3 separate regions of the Homo sapiens genome follow, and regions 2 and 3 are each linked to region 1. Evidence: fine-mapped expression QTL. A gene starts in region 1. Each other region holds a variant in brackets. All regions are shown on one strand. Distances are from middle to middle. Region 1 holds the start of B4GALNT3 (beta-1,4-N-acetyl-galactosaminyltransferase 3). Region 2 overlaps B4GALNT3 (beta-1,4-N-acetyl-galactosaminyltransferase 3). Region 3 holds the start of LOC124902852 (a long non-coding RNA gene).

Evidence for each region. PIP is the estimated chance that this variant, and not a neighbour inherited with it, causes the effect.
Region 2: its variant is fine-mapped to the expression of B4GALNT3 in unexposed skin (GTEx, PIP 0.98).
Region 3: its variant is fine-mapped to the expression of B4GALNT3 in tibial nerve (GTEx, PIP 0.97).

The regions. Positions count from the first base shown.
Region 1 is chr12:454,403-465,216 of GRCh38, forward strand. B4GALNT3 (beta-1,4-N-acetyl-galactosaminyltransferase 3) reads left to right here and starts at 5,537. Exons shown (of 20, transcript NM_173593.4): 1 at 5,537-6,143. The coding sequence starts at 5,975. RefSeq lists an enhancer at 4,705-5,688.
Region 2 is chr12:485,029-495,842 of GRCh38, forward strand. The region is part of intron 1 of B4GALNT3 (beta-1,4-N-acetyl-galactosaminyltransferase 3); the gene reads left to right. Among named protein-coding and RNA genes, the nearest start is that of B4GALNT3, 30 kb to the left of the region's middle. The variant A/C (reference allele first, on the strand shown) is at 4,664.
Region 3 is chr12:502,292-513,105 of GRCh38, forward strand. All of the region lies in intron 1 of B4GALNT3 (beta-1,4-N-acetyl-galactosaminyltransferase 3), which reads left to right. It overlaps LOC124902852 (a long non-coding RNA gene), which reads right to left and starts at 5,879. Exons shown (of 3, transcript XR_007063150.1): 1 at 5,701-5,879; 2 at 5,557-5,664; 3 at 5,434-5,484. RefSeq lists enhancers at 7,074-7,647, 8,491-9,137. The variant C/T (reference allele first, on the strand shown) is at 5,851.

The DNA of each region.
Region 1 (10,814 bases):
ATTTCTGTTTTCTTAGGGGAAGCCTCCTTAAATGAGTGGGCTTTCAAGTTGACAGAACCTCATGTGAATGGGGAGTAAGGACATTCTCGATTACTACAGAGTATTTATTAAATGGCTTCTGGGCTGAAGCCTATAGAAGGAGTACAGATTATCAAATGCAGAAAAGATGTGGTCGTTTAGAAGCCCTATTAGGGGTTGGAGAAACTGTGAAGTCAGGAGTGAAGGGTGCATATGAGTTTTTTTCTTCAGGATGAAAGAGAGAGAATAGCGGTAGGAAATCCAGCTTCACTCAGAGTCCTAGGGACCTATGCCCTGTTCTGAAAATGCTGAGACACACATCTGTGTATGCTCAAATACACATCTGTGTGTGCTCAAACTTGTAGGGACCAAGCCTGTGGGATGTGTCCTTGGGAGAAGAGAAGTTAGCACTAAGACTTCACTCAGAGGGATGACACTACCCTGGCACCATGGTGAGCCACACAGCTTCCAGACATCAAACATGTGCCATGACTTGGGAGTGGGGAAGAAGCTACTCAGAGCTGTGGGTCATTATGCCTTAGCTTCAGCTACACATCCTCTCACTAGCATCTGTAGCAGAAGACTGCAGAGTGCAGACAGAAGAGTGCCTTTCTAGAGAAGGGTGAGAGAATGTCTTTCTAGTGGGGTTTAGTGGTCAGACAGACAGGAGGTAGAGCTTTGGGGAGGCTCGTGTAGATGGCCTCAGCACCAACTAATGAGCAACCAAGAGCACTGTTCACACTATCTCCCTCTGGGTTTGCCAGCAACAAAGAAAACCTGAGTGGTAGGAAATAATTGGTATTTCTCAGCTGAAAAGCCTGAACAAGTCAAAGATAATTTTTTTGACCTGGATGATTGTCTCTTGACTTGCTGGGGAATCCTTCTCCCTGAAGGAGGAAGGCAGAAAGAGACGTTGGAATAATTTGGAGGCATTCATAATGCAGATTGGAAGAGGAAGCAAGGCCTAGCAATAGATGCCAAACTTAGAACTTCAAAGCACATAGTTCTGGTTTGGGTCACCTCTCACCGTCTGCTGAGGACTATATCAGCAACTCACTTGCTTGGGAGTGAGATGAAGTATGTGAATTGCCCTGGGATTTTTCCCAGCTGATGAGCTTTGTTTTGACCCTCAGCATAACGTCTACGCCCTTTCTTCATCTTTTCTTTAACTCCTTTCATCTGATTCCTTTGACACTTTACCATGCAATCTTGAACATGTTCTTCTATAGGGATGCTTCTATAGGGATATTCATCTGTTTCCCAGTCTAGTTTGTAAAATTACGTACGACCACAGATGGAGAAACTGAGGCTTGAGATCTTGCCAGAGCTCATACCATTCTTTCCATCAGCCAAACAGAAGAGCCCAGCTTTCTGGAAAAGCAAGAGAAGTGGCTAATAAGAAGCATTCAGTGGGGGGCATCCATCCTTTTCTGGGATTGGCCTCCATAGTAGCAAACCATGCAGAAAGATTTGTAAAAGATGGACTCATGGAAGGAGGGCTAGGAAAAAGGATCTCTTCTGTAAAGAGCACAGCAGGCAGCATTGGTGACGGAGTTGGGGGGAGGGGGGAGGGGATGAGAAGAATTATCATGTGGCTGAGTGAGTTATGGATGTGCTGAAGGTGAGCTCAGAGTTTCCAGAGTGAATATACTTCTGCAGGGGAACTTCCAGGGGAGGAACATGTGCAAAGGAAAAAAAGCCCTGGATCTGAAGTTAGAAAGCCTGAGTTTGAGTCCTAAGAGATGGGTCATGTAGATGACCTTGAGCAAGTTATTTAACATCTCCGAGCCCATTTCTTTATCTATGAAATGGAATCAGTGAAAGGACAGTTTCCAGGATACGTGATTTGCATGAGTTGAAAGAGATAAAACAAATAAATGCTTGCCAAAATGACCCCGGCACTTGGAGAGCATGTCTTTGTGGATATTTCCAGCACTGTTCTTTTCTCTCAAAGAATGGAACACAGTCTGCCCAACAAACACACAGGTATATATAGACAGGGATAAGATAGATACAGATATAGATATAGATATAGATATAGATATAGATATAGATATAGATATAGATATAGATAGATACAGATATGGATATAGATATGGAAGGTCAGACTGGAGAAGGAAGAAGTCTCTGGGTACAATGGAAAGAGGACCAGCGGCTAAAGATCTGGTTCCGGTTCTGATTCTATCACTTATTGGTCATGTGAAGAAACTGAGGCTTGCAAAGCTTATTTGTAAATAGAGGAGGCTACCTCCCCTGTTGTTCTCATATGGTTGTGAGAAACAAAACACATGGAATATAGATGTAAAAATGCTCTCTAAGCTCAAAGTTGCTACCTTATAATGTAGGTGTCAGGTTTTAGGAAAAAGGATGGGTGGCACAGGGGTCACTGGAGTTACTTAGTATATTTTGACATCCCTATAGAGTAGAATAAGACTTGGTCTGCATACAACAGACCATACCTATAGGTCACTAAACTCTTCCCTTCTGAATTCTCCACAATCCAGAATTTTCTGGTCCCTGTGCTAACCTTGGCCCATTTTAGAAAACTTTGGTCAACCTCTCTTACAATGCCTCTGTAATTTGGGAGAAGAAACTTTATGATTTGACCTGCTCTGCCTCTGATATTCTGGCCAAGCAAAGACCGGGCCCTTCTACCATTATTGCAGGTGTATGGTGGAAAATATTTTTCCTTTTGGGTGCAATTTGTACAATGTGACCCTGGGCTATTCTGGGTCAGGTGCTGTAGCTGAAGTGGGAGGGTGAAAGGACAGTGAAAACCATCAGAAGAACTGGTGAGTAGCCAGGCAAATTGACACTGACAATGAATGGACATTTGTGACAATATATTATGCCACCATGATACCTCAATCCACATACTTAGTTCTGGAGCTCAGCTATTTGGGAAATTTGGGTCTCAAAATTCAGATCTTCCCCTGCTGTGACATCACCAGGAGTCAAAAAGGGATGTGGAGAAAGCGGGGTCTGAATGTGAGGGATATCTCAGTGCCAAGGCGTCACCCACAGAAGAGAAGGGAACAGAAGAGGGAGAGAGGAGAGCCACAAGAATGTCCTGGCCTCTTTTCTCTTCGACTCCTGGCACCTCTCACCATAAGCTGGAAAAGTAATGATCTTCTCAAGTTATAAAAACAAAGTAGAAATAAGAGGAGGATAAAAAATCAAGAGGTACAGGGTGATCTCCTTCTTCTTCTTAATCTCTTTGGACCATAAATTTGGCCTTTAAACTGTCAGATTTCTTTTCCTGTGGACTATCTTTTTTCCTCAACTAAACAGCATGCTTCTTGTTTTAGATCTCTCCCAGTTCCTACATAATAGATGCTTCAAGCATTTGGTTGACCGAAGTGATTGCATGAGCTTTCTCAGTCTTGAGGAGAGAATTGTGGCAAGGCTGCCACCTGTTTCCATGACAAAGTGTTAAAAGTGACTCAACCTAAAATCCAGTTGGGTTGCCCTTAGTAAGAGAGGGACTCTATTTACAGGGCCCGGTCACTTCCCACTTGACTCAGCCGAGCTTGCACAGGCCGTGCACACACTGGCTGCTCCTATCTTGGACTTGTGGAAAGAAAGAAGAACATGAGAAGTACAGGAATCTGTGGCTTTGGAACTTCACAGAGACCTTTCCCAGGGGCTACAATTAGAGAATTGTCCTTTGGATTCACCCTTTTTGCTAAAGAACTGCAGTGAAAGTTCTGGAAGATGTTTGCTCAAAGTGCTACCCCCATCCTCAAACCTTCCTAAGTGCTAAGTGGACATTGTACCACCCACTGGAAATGCAGCTCCCATTTTTGAAGCCTTACAGTGAGGTTGGGAAAACAAGACTCACACACTCCAAGTAAGTTCCAACATATCAGATGGTGAGACAGATGGCAAGTTCTACTAAAGCTCCAGAAAGGAAGGAGTTGCTTAGGACTTGGCTGGTCCAAGAAAGCTTTATAGAATCTGAAATGGACCTTGGATAAAGGGTACAAGTTGACCAACTAGAAAAGAAAATGTGTTGGAGGGTAGTGAATAAACTCGTTTTAGCTGGAGCAGGTTTCATGTGGTCACATAAAGTTGGAAAAGGTTCTGGAAGGCCCTGAATTCTGGATTTACAGTGTGTATCTTAATCAATAAGCATTGGAAGCCATTAAATATTTTTGAGCAGGTGTGTGACTACATACGGGATTTTTTTTTTTTTTTTTTTTTTTTTGAGACAAGGTCTTGCTCTGTCACCCAGGCTGGAGTGCAGTGGCATGATTGTGGCTCACTACAACCTTACACTCCTCCCACCTCAGCCTCCCGAGTAAGTTAGGACTACAGGTGTGTGTCACCATGCCTGGCTTTTTATGAAGACCATCTGGTGGTAGTGGACAGGATGCGATGGGAAGCTTGGAGTTGGGGAGGCTAATTAGGAAAAGTCCTGTAGAAACTATTGAATATCCAACTGAGGTGAGAACAGAGAGAAGGGAAACATAGTTCTCAATTCTGTGAGAACCTCTGTCTTGGAACAGTACTTGTGTGATATTCATTTGATTTTAAAATGTCCAGGAACACTTTGATCCTTCACTTTTCCCATAGTCTCCTGACCATTTTTCCCAGAAGAGATAATGGAAAAGAAAACTGCAGTATAACTTGCTGAGTGACCTGGGGCAGTTATTCTGCCCCTTGATACTTTATCTAATTTAAATCAGATAATAATGCTTTACCTGCCTGAAGGCAGAGGACTGGAATACTGATTTTTTTTTTTTTGAGACAGGGTCTTGCTGTGTTGCCCAGGCTGGAGTGCACTGACGCAATCACGGCTCACTGCAGCCTTGACCTCCAGAGATCAAGAGATCCTCTTGCCTCAGCCTCTCAAAGTGCTGGGACGACAGCCGTGAGCCACTGTGCCTGGCTTATCTTGCTGATCTTTTCAACTCTAAGAGTGAATACTTTTCTTTTCTTTTTAAAATTCTTTTTCGGAACCCTCAAACACCTACTCTCTTCAAACAGCCATTCCAGCCCAGTCTGGGGAAAACTGCTTGCTGGGGTTCACCGTGGGGGCTGTACGACTTCCCCAGCGCCTCTCGGAGATGTGGTTCAGGCTGGGAAGAAAGGTCTTCAAATCTCAACTGGAAAACGAAGCTATGTCTGCGTTAAGCGTCCAGTGGCTCCCGTGATATTTCACGCCTACTGGTTTCGTCAAGCAGGGAGTCGGGTCGTTGCTGTTGGCGACGAAAGGCTCTGAGGCTAAAGCCTTGGGCGTCGCCCAAACCAGCCTCTACTTCGCTTCTGCCTAAAACCACACCGTTAGGCGCCTGGGTGGTGACTCGGTTTCCCTCGGTCACCCAGAGTCCGCATCATCACTCGCCCCCTCCTCATCCCACCCGTTCCCAGTCGGGGGAGGCACCAGGCACCAGTTCTCTGGCCCCACCTCTCGCTCCCCTAGGGAAGCCGAATGGCCTCTTCGCGTCCCTGGCTTCTCGGGGGCGGAGCCCACCTGTGCCCGGGGCGGGGGCGGGGGCGGGGCCGGGGGCGGGCCAGGTTCCGCGAGCAGGAGAGCCCAGAGCCCGGAGCCCGGTCCGGGGCTGGCGGGGGCGCGGGCGGAGGCAGGCGGGCGGGCGCCGGGGAAGCCTCCTTCTGGGCAGCGAGTGAGGGCGGGCGCGCAGGGAGGGAGGGCGGCAGCGAGCCTGCGACGGGAGAGGCGTGGGGAGGAGAGCCCGGCGCGGAACACACGCGCGGAGGAGGAGCCGGGCTCGGCTCCCGGAGAGACCTGCTGGGCGCCCGCGCAGCCCGGAGACCCCTCGCGCCCGGAGCATGAGCCCGAGCCCCGCCGGAGAGCGGCCGGGAGAGACGGCCTCGGCGCAGCCCTGAGACGCTGGGCCGGGACGCGGGGCGCCCTGGGCGCGGGGCCCGGCCGGGGGGCGGCGGCTCGGGGGGTTGGAGCCCGCGCTGGCGGCGGCCGCCTCGGCGCAGCGCCATGGGGAGCCCCCGGGCCGCGCGGCCCCCGCTGCTCCTGCGCCCGGTGAAGCTGCTGCGGAGGCGCTTCCGGCTGCTGCTGGCGCTCGCCGTGGTGTCTGTGGGGCTCTGGACTCTGTATCTGGAACTGGTGGCGTCGGCCCAGGTCGGCGGGAACCCCCTGAACCGGAGTAAGTAGCACCCAGGGGAGGCGAAGGGCGCGGGGGTGGGCGGCGGCGGCGGCTCCTGCGTTGGGGGGACCCGCCTCTCATCCCATCCTCAGACCCGATTTCCCACCCATTTCTCCCTCAGGTGCCCGGCGTCGCCCCGCGCGTACTCGGGGAGAGCTGCGGGCGGGGGAAGCCGCGGGGCCGAGCGCAGAATTCCCGAGCCCGGGCCTGCCCGCCGGCCACGTGGGTCCGGGGCACCCTGGGGGCTCCTCGCGTCTCCCCTCGGAGAGCGACCCGGAGAGAGGCTCCCCGCCCGTCCCGCCGAGACGCTGGCGGAGACCGGGCCCCTCCAGCCGCTCCGGGCTTGCGGTTCCCGGGGAGGAGGTCCGTGGGGTCCACGCGCGAGCTAGGGATTCGGGTGCGGGATGCCCTCGGCCGTCCACACCCAGGCGCGCGCTCCAGTCCGCGCAGCCCAAACTTTGCCCACCGCCTTCTGTTTGGCTCACTCCGTTTCCTCTCCTGCTGCATCTTCTAGGGGGGTTCTTTTTTACCATACCTCGGAGAGTCCCGTCTCTTCCCCGCTTCCCATACGTCGCTCCTCTCCCAGCCTCCGTCCTCGGCTCTTTGAATCTCCCACCTCCTCGCTGCGCCCTCTTTCTCCTGTTCGGGCCGCCCCTTCTGCCACTTTTCTGAACCCTGAGCAAATCTACCAAACTCCCCAGTTTAAGGAGATGATGGACAGCACAGTGGACCGGGCAGCAGGTAGATTCCTACTTCTGTTTTTAACTTAGCCAAAGCCACTTAATATTTCCGTGCCTCAGTTTCCTCCTAGGAAAACAGGAGAGCGTGGTCTCTTTGCCTTTTTACATCAATAGGTATGGCTGTGCGAGGTGGTTTTCAACGTACTGTGGATGGGCCTAACAAAGTAAAACTGACAGTGACAGGGGCCGTAAAAGATCCTGTAATAGTTGGGAAAAGAAATGGAGAAACTCCCGTTACTACCAGGTGCCCAACGCAAGCCCGGGGAGCCGAGGTTCAAAGTTCTGGCACGTGGCCTCCCATGCCTTCACTTTCCTCCCGCTTTGGGGAAACTCGGACAGAGTGGCTGAGCAAGCAGCTGAGAAGATACTCTGACTCTGACCTGTCGTCGTGTCAGCTTCTCTACCCAGAGTTGGGTGTGGTGCTGTGCCTTCTCTTGTGGCCAAAGAGAGAGAATTACTAGGGACAGTCGCTGAGCTGGTTCAGGTTGGAAATGTATATTTATGGCCTAACCTTTCTGTGGTGATGGAAATCATTCCGGCTGTGAGTTAGAGGAGACTGGCTCTGCCACTAACTAGCGGGGGAATCAAGGGAAAAACGACAGCTTCTCAGGTGAAAATGAGGCCTTTGGTCCAAATGATCTCCAAGGTGTCTTTCAGTCTGGATACGAAGACTGATCTGCACGCAAGCGTTTCCAGGGCCAGAGAGCTCAGCACATCACCAGGAAGCCATAGCTTCCACCCCGGGGCCACGACTCCAAGCAGCAGAGCCCCTTCCTCTGATGACCAAAATCTGCCGCCCATAGTGAATTCTTCCCTCCTCTGGGCCTTGTTCTTCCTTCTGAAAGACAGAGAGTGAATCTATTCTCCCCCGCCATGGCCACTCAGGCCCAAATGGATGAGCTCCTTTGGAGTGTGTGTGGGTGGGGGCCTGGGAGGCGACACCTCCTCCCAGTGTAGCCATCATTTTGTTTAGCCAGTGGGATCTTGTGCACAAATTAAAAACAGAGAGAAAGGCAGTTGCTTTGTGACCTTGGAATCAGTAACCTCCCTTTCTCCCTCTCCTCACTTTTCTTTTACCTCCGGTGTGTTTTCTCCCCAAACCTGGATCTAGTTTGCCACAGTCATAATCTGACACTCTGGCCCTCGACCTCTGCCTCTGTCTCCCGTGGGCCGCCTCATTCCGAGCCATCAATTCTTGAGTCTGTTGGGTTCCCCTCCCAGAAGAATCTTAACTCTCTGACTGGGTTTCCTTATTTTTTATTTTCTTTTCCAAACCAATTATCCAGAAAACTCTTCCCAGCCTCTATGCCAGAATTGACTTCGTTTCCTTACTCATGGTTTTTAACAGGAGGCTAAGCTCACACACTGATGCACCTTGTTTCCTCTCTCCTCTTAGAACCCTGAAATTCATCTATTGTGCAGGGTGTCTTTTTGTCCTGCGCTGTCCCGTTATATTCTACTCTCGATTTCCCTGTGGAATAAGATTTAGACTGGAGCTGTGGTTTCTGCCTCCTTGTCTCCCATCCTTTTTTGTTGTTAAGAAGCCCAGACATCTTGCATCAAAGTTCCCTCTTTTCCTATAGGTTTCATTCTCAGCTCAGAGCTATTCCTCTGGAGGGAGAGCCAGGGAGGAGGCATTAGGAAAGGAGAGGTGGGAAGGGGGTTGCTAGCATTCCCACCTCCACACTCTTGGATACCAACAGGAACCAGGGTAGTAAAACTGCACCTCCCAGGCCTGTACCTCTGGCCTCAACCACAGCAACCAGAACCAGCTTGTTGGCTCTGCTTTCCAGCAAGCCACCCTGCCTCCCCTCTCTAGCAATCCCTGCCAACTCACTCCACCACCCACCAGCTCCCTGTCATCTGGAAGGCCAGCCCCCATTACCAGGAACCTTTCATTTGCCTGTCCCTGTGTTGGATCTGGTGCTGGAAGAAGAGTATGGAGAGATGGCAGTCACAAACTCCAGGGTTACCAGTAATGACAGGGGAGCATATTTCCTTCTTTATCTTCGTGAAATAACCCAGTAGTTTAAGATGTGGATGATGTGCAATTTGGTTCCATATGCAGAAGGAGATACAACCACAACTGGAGTGGCTTCAGAGAAAAACAACCAAAATCCTTAACAAATAGAAAATTGACAAAAGAATTAGGACTGTTCACGCATTCATTTACACAAATATTTACTTAGCGCATACCTCGAGCCAGGCATTGTGCCAGGCCGTGTAGGTGTGATGACCAGGATGTGGTTTCTAGCATCTACAGCTTCATTTAGGAGGAAAGCTAAGGTGCCTATATCAAAATGGTTGTAATATAAAGCAGTCATTAAGTTTTGCAAACATAGGACGCATATGTTTCTGTGACACCTCTTGAAATGGGGGCACAGCTCTCCCAACTAATATTTCATGGAAATGGTGACATTTTGGGACGTTTTGAAGAGTTGGTAAGATTTTGGTGGATACAGAAAGGCTATTCGAGACAGAAAGAGTTACGTCAACAAAGACCAAGAGTCGGGGAAAGTTTATGTTTGAGAATACTGAGCAGCTGAGTTTGGTGAAACAGAGGGTATAAGAAGAATAGAGGATGATGCTGTATGTGGAAGGCTGAATAAAGACCTTAAAGAGTGGCATTTATTCAGTAGCTAGCAGAAAGCAGTTGAAAGTTTTAGAATACGGCAGCATTGTAGAATGGGACGGGTAAGGGTAACAATACTTTTGGTGTGGCATGGTGGTTCTGGAACAGGGTCCTGACGAGTCCCCTTGTTGAGCCCAACATTAACTCTTTAGCTGCTGGGTCGTGAAGCTGTCCTGGGGAGGGGTCCGGGTGGCAGTGGGACACTCAGAGGGCCTGGGGCAGCCACTGTACTAACACATGCTTAAGGATTTCAGTGTTTTAATAAGTGGTACGGCTATCCTGGTGTGTACTGGCTGAAAAGCAGCCCTGGGAACAAATTGTTATTGGAAGTTAAAGATTCTCCAATTAGGCAGGTTTTCACAAGTTATATACCCATTTGTTCATATTGGATCAGCAAAGATTCTATCTGAAGGCAGAGTTCTGGACTAGAGGCCGGGGGTGGTGGCTCACACCTGTAATCCCAGCACTTTGGGAGGCCGAGGCGGGCAGATCATTTGAGGTCAGGAGTTCGAGACCAGCCTGGCCAACATGGCAAAACCCCATCTCTACTAAAAAAGATTAAAAAAATACCCAGGCATGGTGGCGCACACCTGTAATCCCAGATACTGGGGAGGCTGAGGCAGGAGAATTGCTTAACTCAGGAGGCAGAGGTTGCAGTGAGCTGAGATTGCACCACTGTACTCCAGCCTGAGTGACAGAGCGAGACTCTACTTAAAAAAAAAAAATGGTTTCTAGAGATGAAATATCTCAGAGCCAAGGGATGACATTTGGGCGCAAATCCAAGACAGAAGGATGGCATGTGCTGGCTCCTTTTAGATCTCCCATTTAAGTGCCAGGATTACTTGCTGGATCCCAAAGTATTCTGAAGCTCAGGAAGCCGTTGGCTTTCGCTGCCTTACCTCTATCTGTACCACATCTCTCTGGTTGGCCTTTGTGACTTCTGGCTGACTCGAGTGGGCTGAGGGAGGCACACCCGCGGTGTGAGGCAGTGACTGCAGCTCTGGCCACCACAGCCGTTCTGATTTGGAAAGGATACAAACCCTCCAGTGAGAGAGGTAATGCAGGGCACAGCAGTAATCTGAGATGCAGGCAGGGAGAGAGGGAGAAGCAAATGAGACAGATGTGTGGGCAGAGGAGGGATAGTGTGGCATGGAGTTGAAACCCAGTGAAGCAGCAAGCACAACCGCCTCGTGTGCTCCTGTGGGCAGGGACTGTGTCTCATGCAGCTCTGGTGGGTGTGTGCCTCTCTGTCCCAGGGAACCTCCTTTTCACGTGGTTTACCTCTCGTGTAGCTCCTTT
Region 2 (10,814 bases), 31 kb after region 1:
ATAACACATCCCTTTGGCATGTTCTCCCCAGCACCCAGAAGCACCCTCATGAGAAGTGAATTCTGGCATAGAGGAGGAAGACGTGGTGTTGGAGGTGGGATTTGAACTGGGGTGTATGATGCAGAGGACTTAGATGATGAGGGAGGATGAAGACAGAGGAAACAAGCACGGATGTGCCAGGGACAGGACAAGCCTGGCCTGATGTGAGAGGAGGCTGCTACATCCCCAGCAAGCGTGGGCACTGAGAAGAAAGATGTACTTACAGTCCAAGGGCAGCAAAGTTGAGAGAAAAGGAGGGAGAAACCAGCTATGGGAAATGGATCAGGCTCAGTAGATATGTGAATGGTAGATTAATCACTTGACCACACAAATACATTTTCTATCTCTACTTGGAGTCTGATTCTATGACATTAGGAACCAGCAAACTGGGACCCCCATGGTGGGGTGGTGTTTACAGATGTTCCACTAGGAGCAAGAGATGTGAAGAAACCAAGACCCAGAAATATGTGAATGACCTCAGGGTCGATAGACCCAAGGCTTCGGCTGGCGACTGAGAATGACAACAATGATTCTCAACCTCAGCTACGAATGGGATTGCCTAGGAAGCTTAAAAAATAACTGAGGCGATACAAGCATATGATTTATCGACACTCACGGAACTGTTCGTGTAAAATGGATACATTTTATTATATATAAATTATACTTTAAAAAGTTGATTTTTAAACCTAGTCAACTTCTGGTCTACCATGTAAGGAGCTCAGAATCTCTGCCCTTCTGTCCTAACCACAAGTAAAGAGCTGAACAGACTGGGAAATCGACAATTCTTAGATTCCTCAGAGAAGGGAGGTGAGAAGGAAAACTGCTGTCCCCAAAACTGGGGAGACAGGTAGGCAGATGCAGAGAATCACAACTTACCAAAGCAGAAATCCATGAGCAGAAACCTCTGCAGAAACCAGTGTCTAGGCAGGAAAACCTAAACTGTAATTGATGAATTACTGGAGGCTCAGTGTGAACAAGTCTGAGAATTAAAAATTCCAGGGGACTCAGTCCCAAGCTTGTGTGAGTTTTACCTCTAGGAGCCTACCAAGTCCTCCCTGTACATTTTGGAGAAAAATCCCCTTCTACTTCCAGCAGGGGGAGGGAAAAAGAAAGCATTCTGAAATACACCAAAATATTCTTTTTTTTTTTTTTTTTTTTTTGAGACGGAGTCTCACTTTGCCACCCAGGCTAGAGTGCAGTGGCGTGATCTTGGCTCACTGCAACCTCCACCCCTCAAGTTTAAGTGATTCTCCCACCTCAGCCTCCTGAGTACTTGGGATTACAGGTGCCTGCCACTGCACCCGGCTAATTTTTGTCTTTTTAGTAGAGATGGGGTTTCACCATCTTGGCCAGGCTGGTCTTGAACTCCTGACCTCATGATCCACCCGCCTCGGCCTCCCAAGTGCTGGGATTACAGGTGTGAGCCACCAAGCCCGGCCTATTCTGTTTTTCTTAACAAGGCCTGCCCTCAGGGGAAACTATTTTACGAGCCTGACTTGCTGTCCTAACCTACCTAGGGGAGGGGAAATACCCAACACCAGCCCCTTCTGGTCATCCTGTCCCATCTAGAGTGGGGAGAAGTCTGATGTAGATCACAGTCCAGAGGCAGAAGCTCATTGAAAGACTGAGATAAAACTATAGAATGCATCTGCTCCTGGACACCTAACCACGATATCACTAAAGGCCCTTTTCATAATTTGTTTTACTCAGCACATCACTTTCAACAAAAAGTTACGAGGCATACTAAAAGGGAAAAAACACATTTTGAAGAGACTGGACAATTAGAACCAGAGTAGGTATGGAAGAAGTGTTAGAGAGGCCAGACATTTTTTTAAACTATGATGATTAATATATTAAAATTTTTAATGAAAAAAGTAGACAACATGCAAGAACAGATGGCTAATGTAAGCAGAAAGATGGGAATTCTAAGAATGAATCAAAAGAAACCCTAGAGATCAAAACCCCTCTAACAGAAATGAAGAATGTCTTCAATGGACTCATTAGTAGATGGGACACAGCTACGAAAAGGATCTCTGAGCTTTAGGATATGACGACATAAACTTTCAAAACTGAAAAGCACAGAGAAAAAAGACAAAAACATAACAGAATATCCAAGAACTGTGGGACAATTACAAAAGGTGAAATATACATAATGGAATATCAGAAGGAAAAGAGAGAAACAGAAGCAATATTTGAAACGATAGCAACTGACAGTTTTCCCCAAATTAATGATAAACACCAAACCACAGATCCAAGAAGCTCAGAAATCATCAAGCAGGATAAACACCAAAATAAAACAATAAACACAATACCTAGCCAGACCATATTCAAACTAAGGAAAGTCAAAGATTTAAAAAAAGTCTTGCCGTGTGTGGTAGCTTACACCTGTAATCTTAGCACTTTGGGAGGCTGAGGCGGGCAGATCACTTGAGGCCAGGAGTTCGAGACCAGCCTGGCCAACATGGTGAAACCTGGTTTCTACTAAAAATACAAAAACTAGCCCGGTGTAGTGGCGCATGCCTGTAGTCCCAGCTACTTGGGAGGCTGAGGCAGGAGAATCACTTGAACCTAGGAGGCAGAGGTTGCAGTGAGCCGAGATCGTGCCACTGCACTCCAGCCTGGGCAACAGAGCGAGACTCTATCTTGAAAAAAAAAAAAAGAAAGAAAAGAAGAAGAAGACCAAGAAGAACAGCCTGGGAAACATAGTAAAACCTTGTCTCTACCAAAAAAAAATTTTAAAATTAGCCAGGCATGGTGACATGCGCCCAGCTACTTTGGGAGGCTGAGGTGGGAGGATCACTAGAGCCCAGGAGGCTGAGGCTGCAGTGAGCTGTGGTTACACCATTGCACTCCAGCTTGGGCAACAGAGCAAGGCCCTGTCTCCAAAACAAACAAAAAACCCAAAACTTGTAAGTAGCCAGATAGGGGGAAAACACCTATCAAGAAGCAAAGATAAGAATTAACATCTGACTTCTCAGAAACCGGGTATGGGCCAGTATGGTGACTCACGTATGTAATCCTAGCACTTTGAGATGCAAACAAGAAGTGAGTCAAGTGAAATATTTAAACAGCTGAGAAGAAGAAAAAAAAAAAAAACCCCATCAACCTAGAATTCTGAACCCTGTGAAATGATTCTTCAAAAGTGAAGCAGAAATACTTTCTCAGACAAACAAAAATTGAGGGAATTTGTTGCCAGTAGACCTGCCTTGCAAGAAATGTTAAAAGTAGTTCTTTAAAGAGAAAGAAAATGATACGTCAGAAACTTGGATCTACATAAAGAAAAGAAGAATGTTGTAGAATGAATAACTGAAGGTAAAATAAAAATTGTAATTCTTCATTGATCTAACAGATAGGTTTATTCAAAATTATAACAATGTATTCAATTATGTATGCTCATATATACTGATGTATGCTTATATATAAGTGAAATGAATTGCAGCATTAATGCAAGAGATGAATAGGCAGAATTAGGAATATTTTGTTATTGTAAAGTACTTGCACTACCTGTGGAGTGGTATAGTGTTGTGTGAAAGTGGATGTCCCAGCCTGGGCAACATAGCAAGACCCCATCTCTACAAAAAAATTTAAAAATTAAATTTTTAAAATTTTTTTAACAATGGCACATGCATGTAGCTCCAGCTACTTGGGAGGCAGAGGTGGGAGGACTGCTTGAGCCCAGGAGCCCAAGGTTGCAGTGAGCTATGATTGCACCTCTTCACTCCTGCCTAGGGAACAGAGTGAAACCCTGTGAAAAAGAAAAGAAAGAAAAGAAAAAAGAAAGCAGATGTGGTTTACTTGTATGTTGTAAACTCTAGGGCTCCACTGGAAAAAAAAAAAAGTATAACTGATATGCTAACAAAGGAGAGAAATAATGGAATCATTAAAATGCTCGCTTAAAACCACGGAAGACTGCAGCTATAAAAAAGAATGGGTTCATGTCCTTTGCAGGGACATGGATGAAGCTGGAAACCGTCATTTTCAGCAAACTAACACAGGAACAGAAAACCAAATACCACGTTCTCACTCATAAGTGGGAGTTGAACAATGAGAACACATGGACACAGGGAGGGGAACATCATACACTGGGGCCTGTCAGGGGTTGGGGTGGGGGGGCAAGGGGAGGGAGAGCATTAGGACAAATACCTAATGTATGCAGGGCTTAAAATCTAGATGATGGGTTGATAAGGGAAGCAAACCACCATGGCACATGTATACCTGTGGAACAAATCTGCATGTTCTGCACATGTATCCCAGAACTTAAAAAAAAAAAAAAACCCACAAAATACAGAAAAAGAAAGGAAGACAAAAATAGAAAGAGAGCGTAAGGGCAATACATAGACAATAGTAATAAATATGATAGATATTATTAACCCAGGTATTTTAATAATCATTTTAACTGTGAATGGTCGAAATAAACCAATTAAAAGATGGAGATTGTCAGAGTGCATCTAAAAACAAAACCCAACTGTATATTTTCCACAAGATAACCACTTTAAATAGAAAGACTCATATAGATTAAACGTAAAGGAATGGAGGAAAATATACCATGCTAACACTAATAAAAAGAAAGCGGAAGAATAGATGAATCCACTGTTAGAGTTGAAGACTTCAACATCTCTCTAGA[A/C]ATTGACAGATGCAGCAGCCGGAAAATTGGTAAAGACATAATTGAACTTAACAGCACCATCCGTCAACTGGATATAATTGACATCTATGAACTGCTTCATCCAGCAATAGCAGATTACTAATTCTTCTCAAGCTCACATGGAACATTTACCAAGATTGACCATATTCGGGGTGGTAAAACACACCTTAACAAATACAAAAGAATAGAGTTATACAATGTCTGATCTCAGACCACGATGGAATTAAACTAAAAATCAATAACAGAAAGATAACTGGAAAGTCCTCAAATATATGGATATTTAAAAATGTGCTTTCGAATAACACTTATGTCAAAGAAGAAATCTCAAGAGAAATGTAAAAATCTTGAACTAAATGAAAATATAACCTAAAATTTGTGGGATGCAGTGATAGCAGTGCTTAGAGGGAAATTTATAACACTGAATGCTTATATTAGAAGAGAAGAAAGATCTAACATCAATGACCTAAGCTTCTACCTTAGAAAACTAGGAAAAAAGAGCAAATTAAATTTCAAAAACAGAAGAAATAATGAAAATTGGAACAGAAATCAATGAAATTGAAAATAGGAAATCAGTACAGAAAGTTAATAAGACCAAAAGCTGTTTCTTTAAAAAGATCAGTAAGATTGATAAGCCTCTAAGCCATGCTAACTAAGAAAAAAAAACAAATTACTAATGTCACAAGTGAAAGAGGAGACATCACTACAGATCTCATGGACATTAAAAGTATAATAAAAGAATATTATGGGCTGGGTATGGTGACTCACATATGTAATCCTAGCACTTTGGGAGGCAGAAGTGGGCAGATCACTTTAAGCTCAGTAGTTCAAGACCAGCCTGGGCAAAACCCCATCTCTGCAAAAAATACAAAAATTATCTGGGCATAGTGGCTTGTGCCTATAGTCCCAGCTACTCAGGAGGCTGAGGCTGGAGGATCATTTGAGCTGGGAAGTGGTGGTTGCAGTGAGCTGAGATCATGCCCTGCACTCCAGCCTGGGTGACAGAGCGAGACACTGTCTCAAAAAAAAAAAAAAATTACGGACAACTCTACACCCCAAAATTTGACAACCTAGATGAAATGGACCAATTCTTTGAAAGACACAATCTGCCAAAACTCACACAAGAAGAAATAAACCATCTGAATAGTCATATCTACTAAGGAATTTGAAGAAGTAATTAATAACCTTTCAAAACAGAAAGCCCCAGGCCCAGATGGGTCTGCAGATGATTTCTACTAAACATGTAAGGAGGAAATTATGCCATTTCTCTACAATCTCTTCTAGAAGATAGAAGCAGAGGGAATACTACCTAACTAATTCTATGAGGCCAGCATTACCTTAATACCAGACCCAGACAAAGACCTTACAAGAAAGAAAATTACAGATTAATATCTCTTATGAACATAGATGCAAAAATCCTCAACAAAATATTAGCAAATTGAATCCAACATGTGTAAAAAGATTATACATCATGGCCATTTTTTCTAGGTATGCAAGGGTGGTTCAACACTTAAAAATCAATTAATGTAATTAATCACATAGGCAAAAAAAGAAAAATTACATGATCATATCAATAGATACAGAAAAGATATTTGACAAAACCTGACACCTATTCATGATACAAATTCTTTTTTTTTTTTTTTAAGACAGTCTTGCTTTGTTGCCCAGGCTGGAGTGCAGTGGTGCAATCTTGGCTCACTGCAGCCTCAACCTTCTGGGCTCAAACAATCCTTGCTCTTTAGCCTTCTGAGTAGCTGAGATTACAGGCGTGCACCATCATGCCCAGCTAATTTTTGTATTTTTGTAGAGACGGGGTTTTGCCATGTTGCCCAGGCTAGTCTTGAACTCCTGAGCTCAAGCAATCTGCCTGCCTCGGCCTCCCAAAGTGCTGGGATTATAGGCATGAACCACCACACCCAGCCTGATTTGTGATACAAATTCTTAATAAACTAGGAATAGAGGGGAACTTCCTCAACTTGATAAGCAGTATCTACAACCTACAACTAACATTATACTTAATAGTAAGAAACTCAAAGCTTTCCCATTGAAATCAGGAACAAGGCAATAGGCCGGGTGCGGTGGCTTACGCCTGTAATCCCAGCACTTTGGGAGGCCGAGGTGGGCAGATCACGAGGTCAGGAGTTCAAGACCAGTCTGGCCAACATAGTGAAACCTCGTCTCTACTAAAAATACAAAAAAAAATTAGCCAGGTGTGGTGGTGGGTGCCTGTAGTTCCAGCTACTCGGGAGGCTGAGGCAGGAAAATTGTGTGAACCCAGGAGGCGGAGGTTGCAGTGAGCGGAGATCATGGCACTGCACTCCAGTTTGGGCACCAGAACGAGACCGTCTCAAAAAAAAAAAAGAACAAGGCAAGAAAGCCACCTCTCACTGCTCCTTTTCAACATTATACTGGAAGTCCTATCTAATGCAATAAGACAAGAAAAGGAAAAAAAGGTATACAGGTTGAGAAGGAAGAAATAAAACTGTTCACAGATGTCATGATATTCTATATAAAAAATCTGAAAGAACTGACAAGAAAACTGGAACTAATAAGCAAGTATAGAAGGGTTGCAGGATACAGGGATACAGATGTCAATTGCTTTCTGATATACCAGCAATGAACAAGTGGAATTTGAAATTAAAAACTCATTAATATTCACATTAGCATCCCCCCAAAATGGAATATTTAGGTATAAGTCTAACAAAATATTTGCAAGATCTAGATGAGGAAAACTACAAAACTCTCATGAAAGAAATCAAAGAACTAATTAAGTAAAGAGATATTCTATGTTCATGAACAGGAAGAATCGATATTGTCAAAACATTTGTTCTTCCCAACTTGATCTACAGACTCAATGCAATCCCAATCAAAACCCCAGCAAGTTATTTTGTGAATATTGGCAAACTGATTCTAAAATTTATATGGAGAGGCAAAAGACCCAGAAAGTCAAGTCAGTGTTGGAGGCAAAGAACAAAGTCAGAAGACTGACACTACCTGAATTCAAGAGAGTACGGAGCTACAGTAATGAAGACACTGTTATATTGGCAAAAGAATGGATAAGTAGATCAATGGAATGGAATTGAGAGTCCAGAAATAGACCCATATAAATTATATTCAACTGGTCTTTGATAGAAAAGCAAAGACATGCAATGTGGTAAAGATAGTCTTGTCAACAAGTGGTGCACATATGCAAAAAAAAAAAAAACCTAGACATAGTTCTTACACCCTTTACAAAAATCAACTCAAAGACCTATATGTAAAATTTGAAACTGTAAAACTTCTAGACAACCACATAGGAGAAAACCTAGGTGATCTTGGGTATGCCAGTGACTTTAGATTTTTAGACAACACCAAAGTCAGAATCCATGAGAAACAATTGATAAGCTAGACTTCCTTAAATGTAAAATCTGTTCTGCAAAAGACAATGTCAAAAAGAACAAGAAGACAGTCTACACAATGGGAGAAAACATTTGCAAAAGACATATTTGATAAAGGATTGTAATCCAAAACATACAAAGACAATAAGAAAACAACCCCATTAATGGGCAAAGCACCTGAACAGACAGTACCAAAGAAGATATAAACATAGCAAGTAAACACATGGAAAGCTGTTTAAGATCATATGTCATTAGGGAAATGAAAATTAAAACAACAATAAGATATCACTACACACCTATTAGAATGGCCAAAATCCAAAATATTGACAACCTCAAATGCTGACAAGGACATGGAGCAACAGGAACTCTCATTCATTGCTGGTGGGAATGCAAAATGGTACAGCCACTTTGGAATTCAGTTTGGCAGTTTCTTTCAAAACTCAACATACTCTTACTTATTCCTTATTGTAAGGAACTAAGACCTTCTGTACAGTGTTGAAATATAATGGTTTTTTTTTTTTTTTTGGTTTTTCACGAGAAGGATATAATTCACCATTTTATCTAGCAAGATTTTGAAAACAATGAGAGCATCTCATCTCAGCCACTTTCCTTAGCAGTTCCTGCTTTTATTCATTTGCTTTTTATGTTGCCTCAGACACAGTTTTTATTTCATTAAAACATGAATTGTGCAGATTTGGAGGCAGTTTAAAAAAAATGAAAAGTAACAATAGATAGAGGTAGGGGGTGAGTTTTATTAATATCCTGGAAATTGATCACCCAATCAGCAGTAGAGTCCGTGTTGGAAAGGCAGTCCACACTTCTCCATAGTTCACTCAGCGTGAGGTTCCCTCAATGAAGTTCTCATTTTTAATGACATAGGTCATCATTAGAAAAAGGCCTGGTTGGCCAGGCACAGTGGCTCATGCTTGTAATCCCAGCACTTTGGGAGGTCGAGGCAGGAGGATCCCTTGAGCCCAGGAGTTTGAGACCAGCCTGGGCAACATGGTGAAACCCCATCTCTACAAAAAATACAAAAATTAGCTGGGTGTGGTGGTGTGCGCCTGTTGTCCCAGCTACTCGGGAGGCTGAGGTGGGGAGGTGGGAGGATTGCTTGAGCCCGGAAGGTCAAGGCTGCCGTGAGCCATGATCGTGCTACTGTACTCCAGCCTGGGCAGCAGACAGAGTGAGACCTTGTATAATACCTTGAAAGAAAAAAAAAAAAAAGCAAGAAACAAAGGAAAAGGTCTCATTGTCCGTTCTTAAATGTAAAGACTCTTAGCTTCATCAGTCAGCGTTCACATTGCATCTGGGGTCCCAAACAGCCAACCCCTTACATTAAACTAAATTCTGCTTAACCAGCTCTCACACTGAACTTAGAAGCCAAGAGTTCAGGAGTATGAGCGCTGGAGTCTCCCTCCCTCTTCCTCCATTTTCTACCATCCCATAGTAGTCATGCAGGATTGGGTGGGACCATAGCTTAAGGTGTTGAGGCCAGCACCCAGGTATAACTTGTATGGCTTCGGAGAATTTCCTGAGCATATGGTTTTCCCCATCTCAGAGACCCGTGTAGTACTGGACGCTGGGACATTGGAACAGGAGTGTAGGAGAAGACCCACAGATTGTCCCCTTGTCACCAGCCCTATCAATCAATGCACACCAAAAACTGGAGCACCAGGCTCCTGAGGCAGTGATGGGGGGAGTAAACTGGAAAGGCTGACTGGGGCCTAATGTGTGCGGGGGGGAGTCTTTATTCTTATGTATTCTTTGATAACAGAATCATTAATGAGAGCATTGTCCGGATTTAGTCTCAGGTTTCACTCGTTAGGTTGAAAATGTGAAAAGCCTCTACCCCTTTAGCTACAAGTGAGGAAACCTGGGTATAAAAAGGAGGCCTGGAGTTCTTGTTCTGGCTCTGCATAGCGTAAGCACAGTGCCGGCATTTTACTATTAAATAATAAGAATGTGTGGACCACTTTCTGTGTTCCTGGCACAATGGATGCACTTTGTATGTGGCAGCTCATTTCAATCTCAGAGCTTCCTTCTCTTTTACAGATTAAATAAACAGAAGCTCAGAAAGGTTAAATAACTTGTCTCAAGTTACACAGTCACACTGTAACAGCCAGGATTTGAAACCAGGTCTATCTGACTTCAGAACCCATGCTCCTAGTCACCTCAGGTCTGCCCCCTAAAAGGGTTTGCTTTAGGGGTTCAGTTTCCTGGGGAGGGGTTTCCAGTTGCTCTCTTTGAGGTTTCTCATTTCCTCCTGAATTCTTGGGTCGTTCTTTTTCCCCTTAGTCCCCCTAACTTTCTTTGTAAACCTTAGTTCAGCTGATCAATGTACCCTCCGCCAAACGTACCGTAAGAAACAAAAGGGTCATCTAGACCTCAGGCATGCAATAGGTGAGGTAAAATTACCTCTAAGGTTGCCTCCTATTTTCAGCACTTGGAAGTACCTGCTGTGTTTCTAGGCCTATGCTTGGGGCTGTTGTGTACAGCTATGCAGGTTGTTCACTGCAGAGATGCTCCCTTCTTAGGGGGTGAATGCGGACCAGACTCTAGCATGAGCTTCACTTGCCAAACTGCGTGCCTGAGGGGAAGGCACAAAGACACTGGATGGGTTAATGGTAGCCCTGACTCTGCTGGGCTCAGGGGTAAGTCTGGCCCTTGGGTAGCTTTCTTATCTTTATTTAGAAAAGTATCCCCATGAAATAATGGAAGCCGGGTCTGCAGCTCTGCTGTGTTGCAGGTAGTGTGAGGAG
Region 3 (10,814 bases), 48 kb after region 1:
GCAGCCCTCGGCATCAGGTGCTCTGACTTGGAGCAACTGTCGTAGTTAAGCGCCTCTTCTGCCTGGCAGCTGCGCTCATTGCCTCCTAATTATACGCTCTGGGGCCTCCCTTGAAGGTAAAATATTATATCACAGCTTTAGGGGTCTGCTTCCAGTGTTGCATTGGTTCCAAATGATGAGGACAGGCAAGAGGTGTAGGGACACAGGGCTGAGAGACATGTTAAGAGACGGATACAAAGGGATTGGAAAGAGAAAGGAGAAACAGGCGGGTGAAAGATGAAATGTTAAGAGAAAGACTGAGGAAGAGGGAGGCCAAGAAAGACATGAAGCAAGGGAAGTTAAAATCTGGAAGGCAGTGAGTGGTGTTCTTAGCACAGATTTGCAGAGGGTAGCGACCCTTGCTATTATTTCAGGAGGAGTGACACGTGAGCACTTTTTCCTTTTTGTTTAAACAAGTTCTTTTATTTTATTTTGTCTTTTTGAGAGGGTGTCTTGCTCTGCCACCCAAGCTGGAGTGCAGTAGTGTGATCATAGCTCACTGCAGCCTTAATTCCTGGGCTCAAGCAATCCTACCACCTCAGCCTCCAGAGTAGCTGGGACTACAGGCGTGAGCCACTACCCTGGCTAATTTTTTTATTTTTATTTTTTGTAGAGATAGGTTCTTGTTGTGTTGTCCAGGCTGGTCTCGAACTCCAAGGCTTAAGCTATTCTCCTGTCTTGGCTTCCCGAAGTGCTGGGATTACAGGTGTGAGCCACTGTGCCCTCCTAAACAAGTTCTTGAGTAGGAACTAGCAGCTAGACAAGATGCAGTGACTCAACAGAGGCAATAATAGGAAGTTTTGGGTTTGCAGCTGCTGGCTGATGTTTTCTACCCTGTTTCCCAGCAAGGAAATCCTGGGGATTGTGAGCGTGTGCGCAGTGACTCACATGACCACAGCCTCCCTGGTTTACAGTCCCAGCCCTGCATACCTGTTCTCTCACCGACACACCTATCCGCTCAGTGACCACACCTCACAATCTCAACTCTGCCCCAGCCACCAAGCCATGGCTGCCACTCACACAGCCTCTTTTTCACTCTGTTGACAGCCACCTCCCTCCTCAAAGCCCATGTTTCCTGGGAGCTGTGACTTCTCTGCCATCAGCTGTCAAATCCTCCGCAGGCTCTTGCATAAAGCATTTTTCCTGTCTGCATCTCAGATTTCTGACCTGTAAAATGAACCTCAGGCTCACTGCTCACGCCTCTTTGCTGTGTGGAGCAGTGAATTAATGTCTTTAAGGAACTTGTTGCTTGTTGGATGAAAGATGCCAAAGTCAGCTTTGCTCCTCCACCCCCACCTGCACTCCTAACAGCCAAGCCCTCCTTTCTTACTGTTTACCATACAGATAAGCTCGTGATGACTAGAGCAAGTCATTTAAGGTCTGTGAACCTGGGTGGACCTCAGTTCCCCAATCCACTGATCTCTGAACAGCTGCCTCCCATTCACCTGGCAGCATTTGACACTGTTGACCACCTACTGCCTTCTTCTTAAAAGTGTAAAAGTGGCCGGGCATGGTGGCTCACGCCTGTAACCCCAGCATTTTGGGTGGCTGAGGTGGGTGGATTGCCTGAGGTCAGGATTTCGAGACCAGCCTGACCAACATGGTGAAACCCCGTCTCTACCAAAAATACAAGAATTAGCTGGGTGTGGTGGCACGCGCCTGTAGTCCCAGCTACTTGGGAAGCTGAGGCAGGAGAATCACTTGAACCTCGGAGACAGAGGTTACAGTGAGCCGAGATCATGCCAAGGCACTCCAGCCTGGGAGACAGAGTGAGACTCTGTCTCAATTAAAAAAAAAAAAGTGTTAAAGTAACACATGCTCATTGCTTAAAAAGAAAGAAAAGTGAAGGCTGAGGCAGGAGGATCACTTCAGCCTGGGAAGTCGAGGCTGCAGTGAGCTGAGATTGCATTACTGCACTCCAGCCTGGGCAACAGCGAGACCCTGTCTATAAAAAAAAAACAAAAACAAAAACACAATTTTTCAAAAAAAAAAAAAAGAAAATGAAATCCAATACTATACACCAGAATTTAAGTAAAATATAAAGACCACTAGTCCTCTCACCTCTATACAATCATGAAACGTGTCTCAAATCCAGCCTCCTCTCTCCACCCCGCAGCCGCCCCCCCGCCCCCGAACTCTTTTTTTCTGAGATGGCGTCTCACTCTGTTGCCCAGGCTGGAGTGCAGTGGTGTGATCTCAGCTCACTGCAACCTCCGCCTCCCGGGCCCAAGCCATCCTTCCACTTCAGCCCCCAAATAGCTGGGACTGTAAGCACGGGCTACCATGGCTGGCTAATTTTTAGCCCGGGAATTTGAGTCTGCAGTGAGCTTTAAATTGCACCCCTGCACTCCAGCCTGAGCAACAGAGTGAGATTCTGTCAAAAAAACAAACAAACAAAAAAACCCCACATACTGTTATTAATTATCATCACCATGTTGTCAAATCTTCTCTTTCTGAACCCTTCTGCCCTTAATTCCCTTAACCCTTCTGTCTCTTAACCCTTCTGCCCTCCCCCACAAAAACCCTTGTGTGAAAATGTAGTCTTAAAAAGAATTCATCACAGGTTTTTTTTTTTTTGAGATGGAGTTTCGCTCTTGTTGCCCAGGATGGAGTGCAGTGGCGCGATCTCGGCTCACTGCAACCTCCGCCTCTTGGGTTCAAGCGATCCTCCTGCCTCAGCCTCCCGAGTAGCTGGGATTACAGGTGCACACCACCACGCCTGGCTAATGTTTTCTGTATTTTTAGTAGAGACAGGGTTTCACCATATTGGCCAACATGGTCTCAATCTCCTGACCTTGTGATCTGCCTGCCTTGGCCTCCCAACGTGCTGGGAGTACAGGCGTGAACCACCACGCCTGGCCTCACCAGAGGTTTTAACAGATGTTCTATACTATGTAATGAGTGAATTAATTAGTTATTTGGTAGCTCTGTTTTGAGACAACTTGGGGCTTCCCTCTCCTCCTAGAATTAACTAACAGCTGGTGAAAGAGCAGAGGGACAGTGACCACCAGGCCAACCTCGCCCAGAGAACTGACAGCAGCATCAGCGGCTCTTACAGCAGCCCCCTTTCCTCTGTTCCCACTGCAGCCTCCAACCCTGGACTCCCTAAGCCCAGAGGGGAAAGGAAGGGCCGTCTGCCCAGCCATTTGAACCCTGATCCATCTTGGATTGGAGAATTGCTTTGGAGAAACCTGAAATCAAGAATTGGCGCTTGCTGAGATTTGCCTGGGGGAACATTTGCCCCATCCTTGAGTTTGGCTTTTGCATTTTCTGGCCTTTCTCATGCTTTCCTGTCCATTTTCAGAATGTTCCCACTGCATGAAGTATTGTCTCCCTGCCACACTTCATTGTCATGGGGGAGAGTGTCCTGAAGACCCTTGTTTCATGTTGCTGGGGCCCAGGATTGCTGTCTGCAGAGAGATAGGGGTCTGAATAGGTCTACCTCTCAAATTATCCTGCTTCTGGGGTTGATAGGAGTTGGGGGAGGAGACTGAGGAGCTGGAGACAAAGCTCTGTGGAACCCACCAAGGATTTTAAACCCTCTCCCATGAAGAGCCCTAGATCAGTGACAAGTGGGAGAGTTGCCATTTGCAACTCCATCCATCTATTTTTGTCTTCTTTCATTTGCATAGATCTGAGCCAGGTAAGCATCAGCTGATACTCTTCTTATAAATCAGATTGTAACCCGATTTGTCTGTCTCATTTTTTTACCCTCTAATACAGCACAGGTACAGTATGCCTATAGGTATGTCCCTGAAACATTCTATGCAGTTCAGATTTTTTTTTTTTAGGAACTATTTTAAATTCATTAGGCAGGCTTTATTATTTCAGGCATCCATGATGGATCTGCTAGCAACAGGAAAATCGTTCTTCATTTGTGTGTGTTTATTATCAAATCATAGAGTGTAACACTTACAATGGTCCTTAAATATCATCATTTTATAACTAAGAAAACCAAGGATCAGGAGGTCACTGGGATCACAAAGCCAGTGAAAGAACAAGGACCAAAACCTTGGTCTCCTGACTTCTAGCCCACTGCTCTTTCAATCACAGGGACAATGAAATACAGAGAAGTTTAAAACTGTTATCTTCCTATATTTTCATTTCCATCTCTTTTTTCTACTTAAAAACATTTTATTTCTATTTTTTAAAATTCAAAGGTATATAATATTAAAAGGTGCTTTCACAGAAGTAAGCACCATAAAAAATTCAATATGCCTTCTAAGTGTTTTCTATGCCTCTGTGATGCCTGTACACATACACATAGAGGCTCCTATACTTACAAGTGCATTTTTATTTATTTTTTATTTTATTTATTTTTTTTGAGACAGAGTCTCACTCTGTCACCCAGGCTGGAGTGCAGTGGCGCGGTCTCGGCTCACTGCAAGCTCCGCCTCCCGGGTTCACGCCATTCTCCTGCCTCAGCCTCCCGAGTAGCTGGGACTACAGACACATACCACCACGCCCGGCTAATTTTTTGTATCTTTAGTAGAGACGGGGTTTCACCGTGTTAGCCAGGATGGTCTCGATCTCCTGACCTCGTGATCCGCCCGCCTCGGCCTCCCGAAGTGCTGGGATTACAGGCGTGAGCCACCGTGCCCGGCCAAGTGCATTTTTAAATGAATTTTTAATTTTAGAATAGTTTTTCATTTACCCAACATTGCAAAGGTAGTCTGGAGAGCTCTCACTTTGCTCACACCCAGTTTCCTCTATTATTGGCATCTTGCATTAAGCCCCGGTACATTTGTCATGATTAATGAACCAATATCGGATGTTATTATTAACTCAAGTTCATACTGTATCCTGAATTCCTTTCAGATATCCCTTTTCTGTTCCTAGACCTCTGTAGTCATTGGGTCTCCCTAAGTTCCTACTGGCCATGACAGATTTAAGCGTTTTTTTGATAGTGTCACTTTTGTGATATATATGGCAACCTTTTTTCACATAACTATATGTTTTGAACACCTTTCTGGGTTAGTGTGTGTGGCCTTCCACACCCTTTTAACTCACCACAGTGTTCTGTTGAGTGGCTTTACCCCATCATTTTACACTGCCCTTGGCACAGAGCCCCCGTCTGGAAGTGTCACTGGGCCTGGGTGCTGTCTGGTGGATTAGACAGACGCTTCCACTGTCTTGGAATTTGGACACTGTGGGAACAGAGAACATGGATGTAAATGACCTGACAGAGCTCAGAGAAAAGGAGCCACGTGGCCTGGGGCACTGCTGTTGTGGCGACCCTTCACCCCACGCCCTCCACCCTACATCCCTCACCCCACACCCTACGCCCTGCGAGTGGCTCTGTGTTTACATACAAGAGTTTACATCTGTGGTGGAAGCACTTTCTCACAAAAGGGTAGGGCTTATTCTAGGAGGCCCTACCAAAGAAAAGCACTAGGTAGCAGCATTCCAGCTGTAGGGCCCGTGACTGTGGCATGCGGAACATTCCTGCCCCTGGAAATCCAGTAGTAGCTTGGTGGACGTCTGTCCCTGGAAATCCAGTAGTAGCTTGGTGGACACCTGCCCCTGGAAATCCAGTAGTACCTTGGTGGACACCTGCCCCTGGAAATCCAGTAGTAGCTTGGTGGACACCTGCCCCTGGAAATCCAGTAGTAGCTTGGTGGACACCTGCCCCTGGAAATCCAGTAGTAGCTTGGTGGACACCTGTCAGGAGTGCTTGAGTAGAGCGTTGATACTAACCTGTGAAAGAAATTTCTCATGATCATCCATTGTAACTGGAAGAGATCTGAAAAATGACTCGGCCCAAGGTCCCACAGCCAGTGGAGACAGAATGTCTTCTCTTACTGTCTTTTC[C/T]GCTGGCCCTGCCAGCCCAGACCTGTCCCTAGGGGGACATCCAATTCATATTCGTTAATGAAGAGAAAGCTTCCAGATCCTTCAAGGTGTCTCTGTTACCTCAGAAGGTCCAGTGCATATTTTGAAACAACTTACTTTTGTTTTTTTTAGACAGGGTCTTGCTCCATCACCCAGGCCACCCAAGCTGGAGTTCAGTGATGCAATCATGGCTTACTGCAGCTTCGAACTCCCAGGCTTGAGCAATCTTCCCACCTCAGGCTCTTGAGTGCCTGGGACTACAGGTGTGTGCCACCATGCCTGGCTAATTTTTAAAAATTTGTTATAGAGATAGGGTCTTACTACATTGCCCAGGCTGGTCTCAAACTCATGGTCTCAAGCAATAAAACAGCTTTTTAATGTTTAAATTATACCCGAGGTTTGGTTCTCTGCAGATGTCCCCCAGAATTGGGCACAGCCTCCGATCGGCCTTATTCCTCTCACTTAATATTTGTCACTATTCCAAACCCCATGTTCAACACTTCACCCATTACCTTTTCCCTCTGACCTCTGATTTGCACAGGCCCTTCCAGCAGAGCTCCAGGCTGTTCTTGCCCAAGCAGAGATTACAAACATACTACTTTGAGGACTGACCCTCCCAGACTTACCACTTCAGCCGAAGTAAGGGAGAACTAGACAACTCTCTTTGTCTCATGCTACAAAGTGCCCCAGGAGGCCTTTCATACACAATTATTTTTCAGTAAGGAGCCAGGGAACCAGGGTCTTTTCCTCTCATGCACCTTGTGAGGTTGGCAGGACAGCGTGTGACTCATGCCTGGACAGAGGCGCATACCTTTAACAGCCTTGCTGGGGAGGTGCCCCACTTAGGAGTGGTGGAGATACACTCTACTGGTTTTTCCTACCCAGCAGGTGTCTAAGACAGACACACTCAGACAACACTGCTTTCCCCATCACTGCCTGTCATCCAACACTTCAAAGATGATGGACAACGTGTCTGAAGCTGATGGGGCGGAGGACCCCTGCACACCTGCACCTACTAACCTACTGCTGTACCTTCGCCCCACCCCCAGCCCCCTTTGAGAGCTCAGATCCCGCCTAGGAGGGGATGGATGGGCTTGTTAACAGCTGACAAGTGCTCTGCAAAATGCAGCTGTTTAATCATAAATGAACATTAGAAGGTGGCCTGGAGCCACTGTGCTTTAGGAAACTCATGCGCGTGGAGAGGACAGGAGGAAAGGAGATTTCCAGGGCAGGAGAAACTTGGGAAGCAACACTGAATGGGAAGAGAGGGAGGCTTTCTAGGGGATTTAAATGATACTGAAACCCGGATACGGAATAGGAGAAAAAATACCAACTTGCTCTCAGGGTGTCTTTACTCTCCCCAGTGCAGATTTCATTGACCTAAATCAGGTCTCTGCTCCTATTTGCTGGTACCTAGTTCAAGAGAGTCTTATAAATACACAAAGCCGGAAATGCCTGGGTAGGGGGGTGGCAAGAGCATGCGGTTCCACTCCAGGACAGGATCTGACTCAAATCACACTTCCCTCCTGGATTCCAGACTGTCAGGAGGGATGCCTCCGAGGTGGTGTTTGGAAGGAGGTGCTGAGAGCGGAGCTGGGTTATTCTAAGCGTGGCCCAGGGAAGATCTTGCCAGACTTGTTAATGTGTGACCCCACCCAGTGCCATGCTCAGCAAGGCAGAGAAGTGTGCTGTGGGTGGTGGGAGCAAGAAAGAGAGGAGGCCAGGACATCTCTATTCCACACATACCCTGTTTCATCCCTTGCTGCATTTCACTAAAATTATCCACTCGCCCCTACGAGACCTGCTGTGTCCTCCTTGAGTCCTTGTTTGGCATACCTTTGTTCCCTTCCATGGCCGAGTGAGTTCAGTCCACATTCATTGAACTGAAAGCTCACAGGTCTTGGAGCCTGGAGAAATAATCGGAACCATTCCCTTTCGTCTCCAGGCAAGATGAGCGATGGACCCAGGTTGCCTAACCTAGTTAGCTGCATGACACTCCAGAGCATCCAGCTCAAAGCAGGCATTGACAGGGATGGGGCACCCAGAGAAATGGCGCTGGTGCTGCTGTAGGGGTAAGATGTAGCAGCAAGGGGCGGGCAAGAGGGCTCCAGATGATTTCTGCCATGCTGAGCTAGCTGCCTGCTGGCTTTGTAAGCAGTGGAATAAGAAGACTATTGTGTCAACTCTTTGAGGGGGTGTGGCCTTCCTTGGGGTGAGAAAGCACAATGGGAAGGGCTAGCAGCTCCCCCGATCCTCTTCCTACTGTGACCTGAGAGACACTCCATGGGGGGGTTGGACGCTGGGGGGCTGGTCAGGGGAGTTGGCTGGGCTGGGAGGGAAACGGGCCCTTTCAAGAGCAAGTCAGACTCTGGTGAGCTGTTTACCCGCCTCATGCCCAAGGGTGCAATGTGAGTCATTTAATTTAATTGGTTTAATAAGTAAACGGTCTGGGTACAAAGAGGAGGGGGTTGGGTATGAGAGGGAGGGGCGGGGCAAACCCTGCAGAGCTGCTTTGGAAAGAAACCTGTTGCCAGCCCTCTAGGGATGGTCACAATTAAACAGGGAGTGGAGATGCTTTGGGAAGTAGGGAGAAGGGAGAGCCCCAGATGTTGAAGTGGAAAGAGGAGTAGAGGCTATAAGTCGGCCAGCCTCAGATTCTCAGTGCCCATCTGAGTATTCGATTCACTGGTGCTGGTATATCCACAGGGCTGTGCAACCATTGCCACTACCTAATTCCAGAGCATTTTCCTCACCCTAGAAAGGAACCTCACCCATTATCAGTCACTCCCAATTCTCCCCACCTCCAGCACTGGAACCACGACTCTCCTTTTGGTCTCTATGGATTTGCCTATTCTTTTTTTTTTTTTTTTTTTTTTTTTTTTTTTTTTTTTTTTTTGAGACAGGGTCTTACTCTGGTGCCCAGGCTGGAGTGCAGTGGCAGCTCACTGCAATTTCTGCCTGCCAAGCTCAAGGTATTCTCCCACCTCTGCCTCCTGAGCAGCTGAACTACAGGCGTGTGCCACCACGCTCGGCTAATTTTTGTTTTTTGTTTTTTTTGGTACCTTCCACCATCCACCTTCCACCTTCCGCCTTCTGCCTTCCGCCTTCCACCTTCGACCTTCTTCCACCTTCGACCTTCCACCTTCCACCTTCCGCCTTCTGCCTTCCACCTTCCACCTTCCTTCCACCTTCCACCTTCCACCTTCAACCTTCCGCCTTCCGCCTTCCACCTTCTGTCTTCCACCTTCCTTCCACCTTCCACCTTCCACCTTCTTCCACCTTCCACCTTCCACCTTCTTCCACCTTCCACCTTCTTCCACCTTCTTCCACCTTCCACCTTCCACCTTCCACCTTCTTCCACCTTCCACCTTCCACCTTCTACCTTCCTTCCACCTTCCACCTTCCGCCTTCGACCTTCTTCCACCTTCCACCTTCCGCCTTCCACCTTCGACCTTCTTCCACCTTCGACCTTCCACCTTCCACCTTCTTCCACCTTCGAGCTTCCACCTTCCGCCTTCCGCCTTCCACCTTCTGTCTTCCACCTTCCTTCCACCTTCCGCCTTCCACCTTCCTTCCACCTTCCACCTTCCACCTTCTTCCACCTTCCACCTTCCACCTTCTTCCACCTTCCACCTTCCACCTTCTTCCACCTTCTTCCACCTTCCACCTTCCACCTTCTTCCACCTTCCACCTTCCACCTTCTTCCACCTTCCACCTTCCACCTTCTTCCACCTTCCACCTTCCGCCTTCGACCTTCTTCCACCTTCCACCTTCCACCTTCTTCCACCTTTGACCTTCCACCTTCCACCTTCCGCCTTCCGCATTCCGCCTTCCATCTTCCTTCCACCTTCCACCTTCCGCCTTCCACCTTCTACCTTCTGCCTTCCACCTTCGACCTTCTTCCACCTTCAACCTTCCACCTTCGACCTTCCACCTTCCACCTTCCACCTTCTTCCACCTTCGAGCTTCCACCTTCCACCTTCCACCTTCCGCCTTCCGCCTTCCACCTTCCGCCTTCCGCCTTCCACCTTCCGCCTTCCACCTTCCACCTTCCACCTTCCACCTTCTTCCACCTTCCACCTTCCACCTTCTTCCACCTTCTTCCACCTTCTTCCACCTTCCACCTTCCACCTTCTTCCACCTTCCACCTTCTTCCACCTTCCACCTTCCACCTTCCTTCCACCTTCCACCTTCCGCCTTCGACCTTCTTCCACCTTCCACCTTCCACCTTCTTCCACCTTTGACCTTCCACCTTCCGCCTTCCGCCTTCCGCCTTCCATCTTCCTTCCACCTTCCACCTTCCACCTTCCGCCCACCTTCCACCTTCCGCCTTCCACCTTCTACCTTCTGCCTTCCACCTTCGACCTTCTTCCACCTTCAACCTTCCACCTTCGACCTTCCACCTTCCACCTTCCACCTTCTTCCACCTTCGAGCTTCCACCTTCCACCTTCCACCTTCCGCCTTCCACCTTCCGCCTTCCACCTTCCACCTTCCACCTTCTTCCACCTTCCACCTTCCACCTTCGATCTTCCTTCCACCTTCCGCCTTCCACCTTCCACCTTCCACCTTCTTCCACCTTTGACCTTCCACCTTCCACCTTCCGCCTTCCGCCTTCTGCCTTCCTTCCACCTTCCGCCTTCCACCTTCTTCCACCTTCCACCTTCCGCCTTCTGCCTTCCACCTTCCGCCTTCCACCTTCCTTCCACCTTCCACCTTCCACATTCCACCTTCTACCTTCCGCCTTCCGCTTTCCACCTTCTGCCTTCCACCTTCCACCTTCCACCTTCTTCCACCTTCCACCTTCCACTTTCCACCTTCCACCTTCGATCTTCCTTCCACCTTCCACCTTCCGCCTTCCACCTTCCACCTTCCACCTTCTTCCACCTTCCACCTTCCACCTTCTTCCACCTTTGACCTTTCACCTTCCACCTTCCGCCTTCCACCT